Linked DNA regions of Homo sapiens: all the other regions are reported to be linked to region 1. Evidence: microRNA targets listed by miRTarBase, many of them from high-throughput screens and not tested one by one. Region 1 holds a microRNA gene; each other region holds the end of a gene's coding sequence.

The links. Region 1 holds the annotated microRNA hsa-miR-6876-5p (CAGGAAGGAGACAGGCAGUUCA, at 1,286-1,307, opposite strand). A microRNA usually pairs through its seed, bases 2 to 8, with sites in the 3' UTR of a target mRNA and lowers its output. Matches are read on the target gene's strand: a 7mer-m8 pairs with bases 2 to 8, a 7mer-A1 pairs with bases 2 to 7 and ends in A, and an 8mer does both.
Region 2: miRTarBase lists SDK1 as a target of hsa-miR-6876-5p. Seed matches in the 3' UTR shown: 7mer-m8 at 1,079-1,085, 7mer-m8 at 2,182-2,188, 7mer-m8 at 2,195-2,201, 7mer-m8 at 2,220-2,226, 7mer-m8 at 2,224-2,230, 7mer-m8 at 2,232-2,238 and 4 more.
Region 3: miRTarBase lists CHORDC1 as a target of hsa-miR-6876-5p. The part of its 3' UTR that is shown has no 7-base or 8-base seed match.

The regions. Positions count from the first base shown.
Region 1 is chr8:25,342,564-25,346,713 of GRCh38, reverse strand. MIR6876 (microRNA 6876) reads right to left here and starts at 1,312; the gene lies at 1,240-1,312. DOCK5 (dedicator of cytokinesis 5) reads right to left here. Exons shown (of 52, transcript NM_024940.8): 26 at 1,103-1,239. RefSeq lists enhancers at 1,027-1,321, 1,304-1,363.
Region 2 is chr7:4,264,998-4,268,997 of GRCh38, forward strand. SDK1 (sidekick cell adhesion molecule 1) reads left to right here. Exons shown (of 45, transcript NM_152744.4): 45 at 127-4,000. The coding sequence ends at 387. Among named protein-coding and RNA genes, the nearest start is that of FOXK1, 420 kb to the right of the region's middle.
Region 3 is chr11:90,198,638-90,202,637 of GRCh38, reverse strand. It overlaps CHORDC1 (cysteine and histidine rich domain containing 1), which reads left to right. Exons shown (of 11, transcript NM_012124.3): 11 at 87-2,209. The coding sequence ends at 233. Among named protein-coding and RNA genes, the nearest start is that of CHORDC1, 22 kb to the left of the region's middle.

The sequences.
Region 1 (4,150 bases):
TAGCTGGGACTATAGGCGCGTGCCACCACGCCCAGCTAATTTTGGTATTTTTAGTAGAGACAGGGTTTCACTGTGTTAGCCAGGATGGTCTCGATCTCCTGACCTCGTGATCCATCCACCTCGGCCTCCCAAAGTGCTGGGGTTACAGGCGTGAGCCACCACGCCCGGCCTTAGCCCTGTGTTTTCAAGAGGGATGGGGGCCAGGTCACAGAGAAAACGCAAGATGAGAAAACATAATTTCCATTAGGTTCCAGAGAAAGTATCAGTGTCCAAGAGGATATGGAAATGAGAACTTCTCAGCAGCTCAGAAATATCAGGTTGTTAGGCATCAGAGGATAAGAAGGAAGAGGTGTCTGCATAAAAACAGAAAGGCCTTTGATTCTTTATTTTTTATTATTATTATTATTTTTTAGAGAGACAAAGTCTTACTAAGTTGCCCAGGCTGGTCAGTCTTGAACTCCTGGACTCAAGTGATCCTCCTGACTTGGCCTCCCAAAGTGCTGGGATTACAGGCCTGAGCCACCATGCCCAGTCAGGTCTTTGATTCTTAAGAATAGTCACAGGGGCTGGGCGCGATGGCTCATGCCTGTAATCCCACCACTTTGGGAGGCCGAGATGGGTGGATCACGAGGTCAGGAGATCGAGACTATCCTGGCTAACACAGTGAAACCCCGTCTCTACTAAAAATACAAAAAAATTAGCCGGGCGTGGTGGCGGGCGCCTGTAGTCCCAGCTACTCGGGAGGCTGGGACAGGAGAATGGCGTGAACCCGGGAGGCGGAGCTTGCAGTGAGCCGAGATCGCGCCACTGCACTCCAGCCTGGGCGACAGAGCGAGACTCCCTCTCAAAAAAAAAAAGTCACAGGGATCTCAATAGTGCGCACACTGGGCAAGCCAGGAAAATCAGCCTGCAGAAGGCCCCAGCAGTAATCTGACTTTGCACTGGAGGCTCTGGCCTCCCTAATTATCTCTAAAATGGGCACAGCCTGCCCTAATACCGGAGCTGGAAACTACCTGAGAATAGGAAGGCCACGGAGTCACTCCTGTCTGGTGCAAAGGGGACAGTGTGAACTCTGTGCAGCATCAGTGATGACTCAACTCACCACATCCTTCCTGTCCAGCACCTCCAGGATGTTGCTCAGAAGCTGCGAGCTTGCCTCGTGGTCAGGCTTGTTGGAGTTGTCATCTAACTGGCCGCTGAGCTGGTCTGTCAGCAGTGGCAGCAGCACTTCTCTGCACTCTGAGAAGGAAAACACAGACAGCTCACACACAGCAGTGCCACCTCCTGAACTGCCTGTCTCCTTCCTGCAACTCTTCCTCGACCAGTACCAGTAGCTCTAAGCTCTGCAATCAGCCCTGCAGGGATGCAGCCCCTCCAGGCCACCCAGGAACACCTGGTTTTAGGCACGGAACTTTACCCTTGTTCAATGCGCAGATGAATGAATTAAAAAAAAAAAAAATGACCCTTCTCACAGGTGAAGGTGGGAACTTAGCAAAATGTTTAAATTATTTAACAATTTCTCTAGCTTTTCAAAACGCCAACCTAATGCACGAAATTGAGGGTCATATGAAACAAATAAAACCAAGCAAGTTATACATTTTTTTTTTCAAAAATTTTTTCACCTAATGGAGAAAATTTACTGAAAGAAGTTCCTATAAATAAAGTTCCTATAAATACTGAGCTTCCCTAGTACATGTCAATGACATTCTGCTCATGTCTGTGCAGGCGTGTGGATTTCAGAAAGTAAGGTATGACCTATTATGTCTTCTGAGATCTTTGCTATTGTAACACATTTTATAATGAGTTCAGGTACTCTGAATGCTACAGAAATGACTGTTAACCGTGATCACACTCTAAGTAGAACTATCCAGTGCATGCTTGCTCTTCTGCTCAAACACCTTATCTTTACTATCTCAATTACCTTTTCTGTATCCTTAAAAAGTGATCAAAGCATATTAAAATGTTTAGTAATAATTTGCTTTAGTAATAAATGTTTTCTACTTATGAGCATTCACTAACCTTTTGCAGGCATTACCTCTACCTCCAATTGTGTCTTAGGAACATTTGCAATTTCAAAGTGCAAATTCATAGGGTCAGAAAATATCAGAGCCCAAGGAGGCTACTGATACGATCTAGCTCAAGTCCTTCCTTCCACAGAACTGGAGGCTGAGACTTAGAGAAGGCCACTCATTTGTCCAGTTACATAACTAGCCAGGGGCAAAGCCAGGAAGGCTCTCCCACCAACAATCCACTCAACTTGTTTAACGTTGAGGAGTCCTGCTGGTCTTCAGATCTCCAGGCAATATACATACATAAAATGAGGTTACACTCTGGGAGCCCCTGACCAGGTAGTTAGCCCCAGAAGAAGTCTCCGTGGCTGCCTCACTCTAGCAAGTCTTGAGTTTATTGGGAAGGCCCAGGTGCTGGACCTCCTGTTTATATCAGCTTTGGGACAGAAACACTTGGTGGCTATTTGCTAGACTCTACTTACAAAATGAAAAGTATTTTATCAGTGTAAGAGTTTTTCCCCTCCATGCCCCACTCCTCTCCCAGCAGAATACTAGTAATCTGGCTTCTGCCAGCCTACCCCCTAAAGAAAACAGCTTGGCCAGGTGCAGTGGCTCATGCCTATAATCCCAGCACTCTGGGAGGCCAAGGTGGGTGGATCACCTGAGGTCAGGAGCTTGAGACAAGCTGGCCAACATGGTGAAACCCTGGCTTTACTAAGATTACAAAAAAAATTAGCTGGGCATGGTGGTGCACACCTGTAATCCCAGCTACTTGGGAGGCTGAGGCAGGAGAATTGCTTGAACCTGGGAGGTGGAGGTTGCAGTGAGCCAAGTTCATGCTGCTGCATTCCAGCCTGGGCGAAAGAGTGAGACTCCATCTCAAAACAAAACAAAACAAAAAAACGCTTGCTTTATCATGTTTGCCAGTTACCCTGGTGTAAAGACTTCCACCATGGTCAATTTCCAGCTACTAATGTGATATCACTGAACGTGGGGTTGAGAAGGGATGCATGTAACCAGCTCTCCTGTGGGATCCAACACATTGCTGTTTCCCTGTCCCCTGGTTTTTAAGGTCATGCAATAAGTATAGACTAAAGAAGAATAATTTCTTTTAAAAGGGTCATCTTTTCCTACTTGCTTGTTACTTCCTGAGGTTCCTGTTTTAAAGACAAAATTCTCTAATTAATGAACCACTTGCAGATTGTTCTAATTAAAGATTAAGGAACACATGATTTTGCTCTTTTAGGAACTGTTGGAAATACCGAGCTGACTTTAGATTCTCCTTAAAACCGCTCTCCCAGGAGGTCCTTACATACAACTGGCAACAATATTAATGTTGCCAACAAACAACTGGCAAGAATATTAATGACATTTTTAAAAAAGAAAAGTCAAGTGCTGACTGGGCACGGTAATTATGCCTGTAATCCCAGTACTTTGGGAGGCCAAGTTGGGCAGATCACTTGAGGTCAGGAGTTTGAGGCCAGCCTGGCCAACATTGTGAAACCCCCCCTCTCCCAAAAATACAAAAAAAAAAAAAAATTAGCTGGGTGTGGTGATGTACACCTGTAATCCCAGCTACTCAGGGGGCTGAGGCAGGAGAATCACTTGAACCTGGGAAGCAGAGGTTAGAGGGAGCAGAGACAGTGCCACAGAACTCCAGCCTAGGTGAGGGAGTGAGATTCCGTCTTAAAAAACAAACAAGCCGGACGCGGTGGCTCACGCCTGTAATCCCAACACTTTGGGAGGCCGAGGCGGGTGGATCACGAGGTCAGGAGATCAAGACCATCCTGGCTAACGTGGTGAAACCCCGTCTTTACTAAAAATAAAAATAAAAAAAAATTAGCTGGGCTTGGTGGCAGGTCCTTGTAGTCCCAGCTACTTGGGAGGCTGAGGCAGGAGAATTGCTTGAACCTGGGAGGCCGAGGTTGCAGTGAGCCGAGATTGCGCCACTGCACTCCAGCCTGGGTGACAGAATGAGACTCCGTCTCAAAAAAAAAAAAAAAAAAAAAAAAACAAGAAAAAACAAACAAACAACAAAACCCAAGTGTTAGCTGCAGAAATGGGGCTGTCATCTCAGCATGCAGCAGCTTGTTTTAGCTTTTTGAGATGGAGTCTTGTTCTGTCACCCAGGCTGGAGTGCA
Region 2 (4,000 bases), not on the chromosome of region 1:
GGGAGAGGGCTGGAGACCGCGACACACGCCCCTGGGGAGGTGCCCCCACCGCCAGGCCTCCTGCCCAGCACGCTCCGGGCCCTGCGCCCTGCCCTGCACTCACACCTTCTCTCCCGCTCCCCGCAGGCCACGGACTCTGACTACGAGGACGCGCTGCCCAAGCACTCCTTCGTGAACCACTACATGAGCGACCCCACCTACTACAACTCATGGAAGCGCAGGGCCCAGGGCCGCGCACCTGCGCCGCACAGGTACGAGGCGGTGGCGGGCTCCGAGGCGGGCGCGCAGCTGCACCCGGTCATCACCACGCAGAGCGCGGGCGGCGTCTACACCCCCGCTGGCCCCGGCGCGCGAACTCCGCTCACCGGCTTCTCCTCCTTCGTGTGAGCAAAGCGCCGCGCCTCCCTCAGGGCGGAACGGAGGCAACTTTCCGGAGTCTATTTTTGTTAAGACAATCAACTCCAATAACTGAGCTGAAGTTTTTGTTTAAAAAGAAAAAAATCTGATAAGTGATGATTTTACCTACTTGTGGACACTAGATTTCAATTAGGAAGGTTTTTTTAAACGGCTTTTTGTAACTTCGCTGCAGGAAGCAGGTTTGTTTCTTTTTCTTTTCTTTTTAAGAGAAGGTGTATTTCACTGGTGCAATGGCTTGGCACCTCCGGGGCCTGGGAGGACCTCAGACCTCCCCAGCCCTGGGTTTCTCCGTCTTCAAGACCAACTAGGAAGGGTCAAGCGGGGAGAGGGAGTGGAGGGTCAGGTGAGATCTCAGAGCTGCCCCGGCCGGCCCCCGTCTCTTTCTACCTCCTCTTCCAGAGAACCAGCGGCTCACACCCTTCTCAACGCAGGACATCCTCGGCGGCTCCTGGGGTTTGAAGAGCAAACGTTTTTCCCTGGGCTCAGTGCGTTTTGTCCCAACTTCATCTGTTTCTGAAATGTTCTCACTTGGCAGTGTCTAGTCAAGGAGTCGGCTTTCAGGTTCCTGACGGCCAGGCAGGGATGCTAAGGTGTGGCTCAGCCGTCACTGTCTGTGTCACTGCAGTGGTGCGGTCCTCAGGCTTTTCTGCCTGTCTTTCCCCCTTCCTTCTCACCTGACAGCGAGGGAGAGGGAAGCCTCTTAGGGCTGGAAGCCACCACGCTGGCCCTCTCCTTCCCCGAACACAGCACACGGTCAACTCCGCGGGACACGAGGACACGGGACGGCGTCTCCAGAATTGCTTGTTACGTAGGAAGCGTGCATTGTTAACCAGAGTATTTTTAAAATCTTTTTATCTTTTTTTAAACTATGTCACATGAAATGAATGCGTCTTTGCTGTCTCCAGGTGCCTTTTTATTAATTGTTCAGCTTTGTACATGGGAAAGATGAAAAGCAACAGTGTCTGCAAATAAAGCAAAACAGCTCTGAGAACACACGCTCCCGACTCGCCTCGTGCACACCAGGCCGTCCCCTCCCTCTGTCCTGGCTTCTGCTGGCTGCTCGCAGCAGCCACCGCTTCTCCACCACTGGCGCTGCTGCTGCCCCCTCTCCCAGTCCGAGGCCAGCTTTTAGCCTTAACAGGTTTTTTGGAAATGTTTCTTTTTTTTATTTAAAATTGTCATTGTTTGGTTTAAATTTTTCAGCTAGATGAAAAGAGTATGAACTACTTTGGAAAACTTAACAGCTCAGAGATGGCCATGCCTCCAGCCCCTCACGTCATCTTTGCAACAGACGACTGGGCTGCCATGGTCCACCCCTCAGCCCGGGTCCCGGGTCTGGATGGAACGGGAGCACTGCTGGTGCCCACTGGCGTGTGTGCCCCGGGTCCCTGTAAGTGCCCCCTCACCAGCAGCAGCGTGACACACACAAGACTCAAGACCACCCTGTCAGTGCCCCCCAGTGCACGGCAAACGGGCAGGTGCCGTTCCCCCAGTGACCTGAGGGTAGGGGACAACTGAGCAGTATCTGACCAGTGCCACCCAGGAGCCAGTCTCCTGGCCACATGCAGAAAGTGTGGCCCCTGCTTACCTAGATGTTTTGTGCACCTCCATGGGCAGAGGGTGTGGATATTGCCTGGATTCTGTGCTGTCAGCGTTGCTGAGTATGGCCCCAGGAGACCAAGGAGAGTTTTGTATAGGCTGGAAAACCCCTTTTCAGTCTTTCCAAAATTAGAGGGTATGGCAAGTTTCCTTTTTTCTCTCCTCCCTTCCTTCCCCTCCTTCCTTTCCTTTACCCCTCCTTTCCTTCCTTCCTCCCTTCCTCTCTTCTTTCCTCCCTCCCTCCCTCCTTCCCTCCCTTCCTTCCTCTCTTTCCTCCTTCCTTCCCTCCCTTCTTTCCCTCCCTCCCTTCCTCTCTCCCCTATTCCTTCTTCCTTTTCTCCTCCTTTTTCTGAGTGGAGGGGGAAATATTCTAAACCAAAAATCCTAGATGCTCTGCCCAAAGCCACTTCTGCATGAGAATCGCAACCCACAGTTCCCCGGATGAGACTCACCACAGTGGACAGTGCCACCTCCTTCCCCTCGGCCCCGGAGAGGGCGAAGTGGGCGGGAAGCCAGGATGTGAGCACTGGAATTTCTTGGAAGAGAAGCGATAAATGGAGACCATGGCCAGCGCTGCTTTCTGTGCACTCTGATGACTGCTCTCTGCAGCCATGAGGATGTGGCTTTACATGCCAGGGAGAGTGTTGAGACGTCTTAGGTTGAGGATGAGCAGATTCGAGATATGTTTGTTGCTCTCGGGTTTTCGATACAACATCATGACACTTCTGTTTCAAGCTCATGTTTTCCGTCTCCCCTCCACTCTTAGTAAACCTTGATCTGTACGGAGCGGCCTGTCCGAGGCTACGCCGGCCTCCTGGCTGCTGCTGGACTGTGCTTAGGACAGCGCCCATGCCTCGGAGGGACTCTGTCCCATGAGAACCACCTGTGCAAAGGAACAGAGCTGGATGTTTCCAGGTAGATTTTGGCCTCCCAGAGCAATGCGGCATTTGAGAAGCAACAGTTCCTAACTCCTTATCTTCAGGGAAGGAAAAGAAAATCACAGCCTAGGAAGATGGAGGTTGGATTTTAATCTCGGTTTTAAAAAGAGGACAAACAAAATGTCTCTAAGCCAGGCTAGATGGAATGTGCTCCCGCTCTCTCCTGCCGTGCTGAAAGTCATGCCTTGCGGATGCCTCATGACAGCAGTGGCTGAGTCTCCCCACCCACCCCCAACGTGGCTCATTTCAGATTGCTTCGGCCCCACCCTGCAAGGATGTGGTCACGGAGTGGCCAGGAGGCTCCGTCTGAGCCACAGGGATGGGTGTGCAGAGCTCCCTCCTCCTGGGGTGCCAGGGCAGAGATTCCAGGCAGGTGAGCCCAGAGAGAGCTGCCAGGCCACACCCCCTCGGCCTCCTGCACGGCCACCTTCTGGGTGAATCGGTCCAGCCCAAGCCCCTCTCCCCAGCCTCGCCTTCAGCCTCTCTCCCAGCCTGCTTTTATAAGGCGCACTTCACTCAATGCTGTAGCCAAAAAACGAGGGGCCCCAGGGAGAGGGGACCCAGATGGCCACACACGGAACGCGCCTCCACAGCCCCGGGAGGTGGCTCACTCTGTACAGGTCTTCGGAGGCCGTGTTTGTATCTAACTGTGACTGGGCTGAAGCATGATGTTTGCCTAATGGTTCGTAGCATGGTTTTTATTTCTTACGCATTCTTGGCACACAGTGTAGCTATCCTCCTGACGAGCAACCCGTCTGCGTACCTAAGTGTGGCTCCCCGTGGGTCAGCGTCCTGGTAGCATGGATCCAGTCTGAAAGGTGAGGACAACGTGGAAACTCATGAGCTGAGCCTGCCCGCTGGGACACGTCTCCTTCCCGCGTCACCTTCTGGTTTAGGGAGCCGTCAGGTCCCTAAACGTTCCCTACAACTTTTTCTGAAATTGTGCAGAAAAACAGATCTCATTAAAAGAAAAAAAGAAACAACTTGTAGGAAGACAGAGAGGTGCTATGGGTACAATTTTTAATAAAAACATTATTTTGTTCCTT
Region 3 (4,000 bases), not on the chromosome of region 1:
ATTATTGGCATAAGCAAGTCTGATGTTTTCCTCTGAGACTAATAAAACTACTGAGGTTTCCTGTAATTCTCTTTGATATGTTACAGGTGATTGATGTAAAGCGAAGTTATGTAACTATGACTGCAACAAAGATTGAAATCACTATGAGAAAAGCTGAACCGATGCAGTGGGCAAGCCTTGAACTGCCTGCAGCTAAAAAGCAGGAAAAACAAAAAGATGCCACAACAGATTGAGTGGGAGATGGAAGGAAGGCTATTACATTATTTCCGAATTTTTAATACTGTGTGAAGTGGTGGCTTGCTGCTGTAATCTTTTGTTTTGTTGTTGTGTTACTGAATGTGGCATTTCAGGGTTAACATTAGGTTCTTAAAAGCCAAAGTCAGTTTGTCTTTTTGTGCCTCTCATCTTTCTTTTGTGTTATGTAAGATTGATTATTCATTTCTCCCTACTGGTAGGAACCATAGTTGTGTCCTATACTTGAAGAGGCTGGAAAGTAGCCCATAACCATAATTGCAGTATTTCTTTGTATTTCTCTGTTAAGCAAAGAAATATTAAGGAACATTTTTTTTATGTTTTTGTATTATTCCATAATTAGTAAAGCAAGATGAAATGTCAAATTTTAATCAGTTTTTTCATGGATTTGTGTTCTTACAGTACTTGAAAATATTTAAGGAAGAGATGAAGCTCTGCAGTTTTTTCTATGTGGGATGATTACTTTTTTAAGGAGGATTAATTCTGAGGTAGTATAGTAACTAAAGGGGAATATATGAATTGTTTAACAAATTAGAATTTGTTTACAACTACTTGAATTTTTAAATTATGTCAAAACTTACATTACTTGCCAAGCAGTATGATGTTATAGGAAACATAAATAAGATTACAGAGGTATCAATTTGGTTAAAATTCACCATTTTATAAGACTAAGCAATAATCTTAACAACCTCTTTCCTGAATATTTAAATGTGTTTGTATGGTGTTATGACTAATTGTTACTGATTTAGAGACTAAGCCCTCTTAAAACCTTTAGTTAAATATAAAAAGAAATTATATATATCTTGCCTCCCTGATGGAAAACTATATAAAATTGTAGACTTAAAAGGTTTGTGGAAATACATTAGGATATCAGAAAACTAAATATATGGAGTTGCTTTATGACTATTACATGTTAAATAAAAATAGCTTAATTGTTTTGGAGTTTTTTTTTAAAGTCATGAAGAGCTTCACAATTCTAGTGATACAATGTTGACTATATATTGTACTTTATATTAAATATAGGTAATACAGAATTAGATCGTTTGGATAGGTTTTGAGTTAGTGCAGAACTCAAGAAGAAAAATTAGGAAATATTCTGAAGGCCAGAACTCTGGAAGAACTTAGAAAGTTTGGGAATAAATTAAACTTATGTAGATTTAAAATTAAAAGGGGTTTATTTCCCAAACCCCTTGAGTCTTTTCTTTTCCTTGGTATTTATGGAATTCTTACAAAGAAAAATTTGCAGAAGTACTATTTTCGTGAATAAAACATATGTATCATTCTACTACCATTAGCAAATAACTTAGTTGTAGTTAATATAATTGTTAAAAGGTTTAGCTCTGTTACAAATAAAAACATAAAGATCTGGCAACCAGACTTTCATGATGTTACATTACCATGACAAGAAACTCTGGGCAGTAAAAGTTGGACCCACATGGAGTACATAAGCATCTGATACCTGGAGATGTATTTAAAATTTTTCAAGTTATCTTCCATGATTTAGGAACCATTTAGAGACATGAAGTCTTTATGGGTTGGGGGAAAGGTTGATAATTAGTTTGATTAAAGGTAATGATTAATATCCCTTTTTGTTCATACTTCCTTCTGAGGCTGTTTTCCCCTAAACAGTATCTTAATCTGTTACATGTAATTGAAATATTATTTGAAGCAGTGAGTTATTGTAACCTCAGATTAGTTACATTGATCAAAACATTGATTTATACACACACACACACACATACATATGTAGCTTTTATATTTAGTCTGGTTACATTAGTGACCATGGTATTTACTTTCTTCTTAAGGAGCCTTTGAATTTCTTGTCCAGATAAAAATCCGAATATTTCTCTTAGACTCATACATAAAGGGACACAGTTATCGTTAGGTAGCATATGTTTTACTATCGGTTTGTCAAAAAAGTTAATAAAAAGTGCTTATTGATTTATTTCTCTAGAAATTTGCTTTGTCTTTTTTAGCATTAAAAATAATTACTATAGCAAAGCAGTCAAAGTTAGGTATATTATATATATACTTGGTAACTAAAGATGGGAAACCTAAAATGCTATTTTTCTTTCATAGCACATTTACTAGTATAAAGGAAGTAAGATCCTAATAAACTGAGCCTTTATTTAACTTCTTTGACCTAGTTTTAGGTTTACAGAAAAGTTGTAAAAATACAACAGTTCTTTATGTCTTATATTAATCTTAATGTTAAAATCTTACGTTATCATAGAACATTTATAAAACTTAAGAAATTAACCTTTGTATAATACTATTAACTAAAGTAGAACATTTTATTTTTACCATCTGTTTTTAGTGGAATTCTTCAAGGTCTTAAGACTTGTCCTACTTTTTTGGTAATAATTTAAGCCAGTAATTTATAAACAATTAAGATATGATTAGGAATCAACAAATGTTTATAGGTTGAAGATGTAACTTCTTGGTGTAACTATACTGGCAAAGGACTGTAATGATTTTACTTTATTCTAATTTATATTTTATGCAAGGATTTAATTAAGAATTTTCTTCAGAAAATTATTCAACCATCAAAGTGTAGAGAAACTTAAAGAGTTCTTGCAAATATTTTAAAGGGACTTTGAGTTATTTCCCCTCTCCGAACTCCCAATTTTTTTTTTTTTTTTAATCAGTTATTCCTCAGCCTGAAAATTTATGTCATGCGTATACTCACAGTAAGTAAACTTTTTTTTTTTTATTTTTTTTATTTATTTATTTTTTTTTTTTTGAGACGGAGTCTCGCTCTGTCGCCCAGGCTGGAGTGCAGTGGCGGGATCTCGGCTCACTGCAAGCTCCGCCTCCCGGGTTCACGCCATTCTCCTGCCTCAGCTTCCCAAGTAGCTGGGACTACAGGCGCCCGCCACTACGCCCGGCTAATTTTTTGTATTTTTTTTTTTTAGTAGAGACGGGGTTTCACCGTTTTAGCCGGGATGGTCTCGATCTCCTGACCTCGTGATCCGCCCGCCTCGGCCTCCCAAAGTGCTGGGATTACAGGCGTGAGCCACCGCGCCCGGCCAAGTAAACTCTTAAAAGCTCATTTATGAGGGCTGGTGTCCCTTTTAGGATATATGGGTATGTACTCTGTAAATTTTGTTTTTAGCAGTCAGGTACTTTTAAATTATCTATTTGAACATTAACAGGGTTTTTTTTTGTTGTTCATCTTTTATGGCAAATTATTTTGACTTGGCATTCATATTTGTTATTTACTTTGTTTTCACCAGTATAATTCCATGGCCTCAGTTTTGAAATGCAAGCTATTAAGCCCAGCTTGTTTTTAGGTTTTGTTAATAGGGTTTTCTGTTTCATTTGTTTTGATTGTTTGATAGGTTTTTTGTTGTTGTTGTTAATTATCCCTGACTGCTTCCCTACTGCCCAGGTATCTTAACAACTTAATCTGGTGGTGTTGGATGGCTTGCCTTCTTCAGTTACGTATATGCCTATGGCTTTATACATATGGCACTATCTCTAAAATACCAGGCTTGCAGAGGTTTTCTTCTGCATGTTCTTTAACTTTTTAACAGAATTCTTCATTGTGAAGATTATCTTTAAGAACAGTTTTTCTGAAGACCATGTTTTCACTAAAAACTCAATGACTTTTCTTAGTTTTTCCGTTTAGTGGGTCACCTTTAATGTCCATTGAAAAGAAATATAACTTCCAGCCTTAAACATTTTTATGTTTCTTAAAGATTATGTGTCAAAATAATTCAATTTGCCATTCCTTTTTCATTAGGCA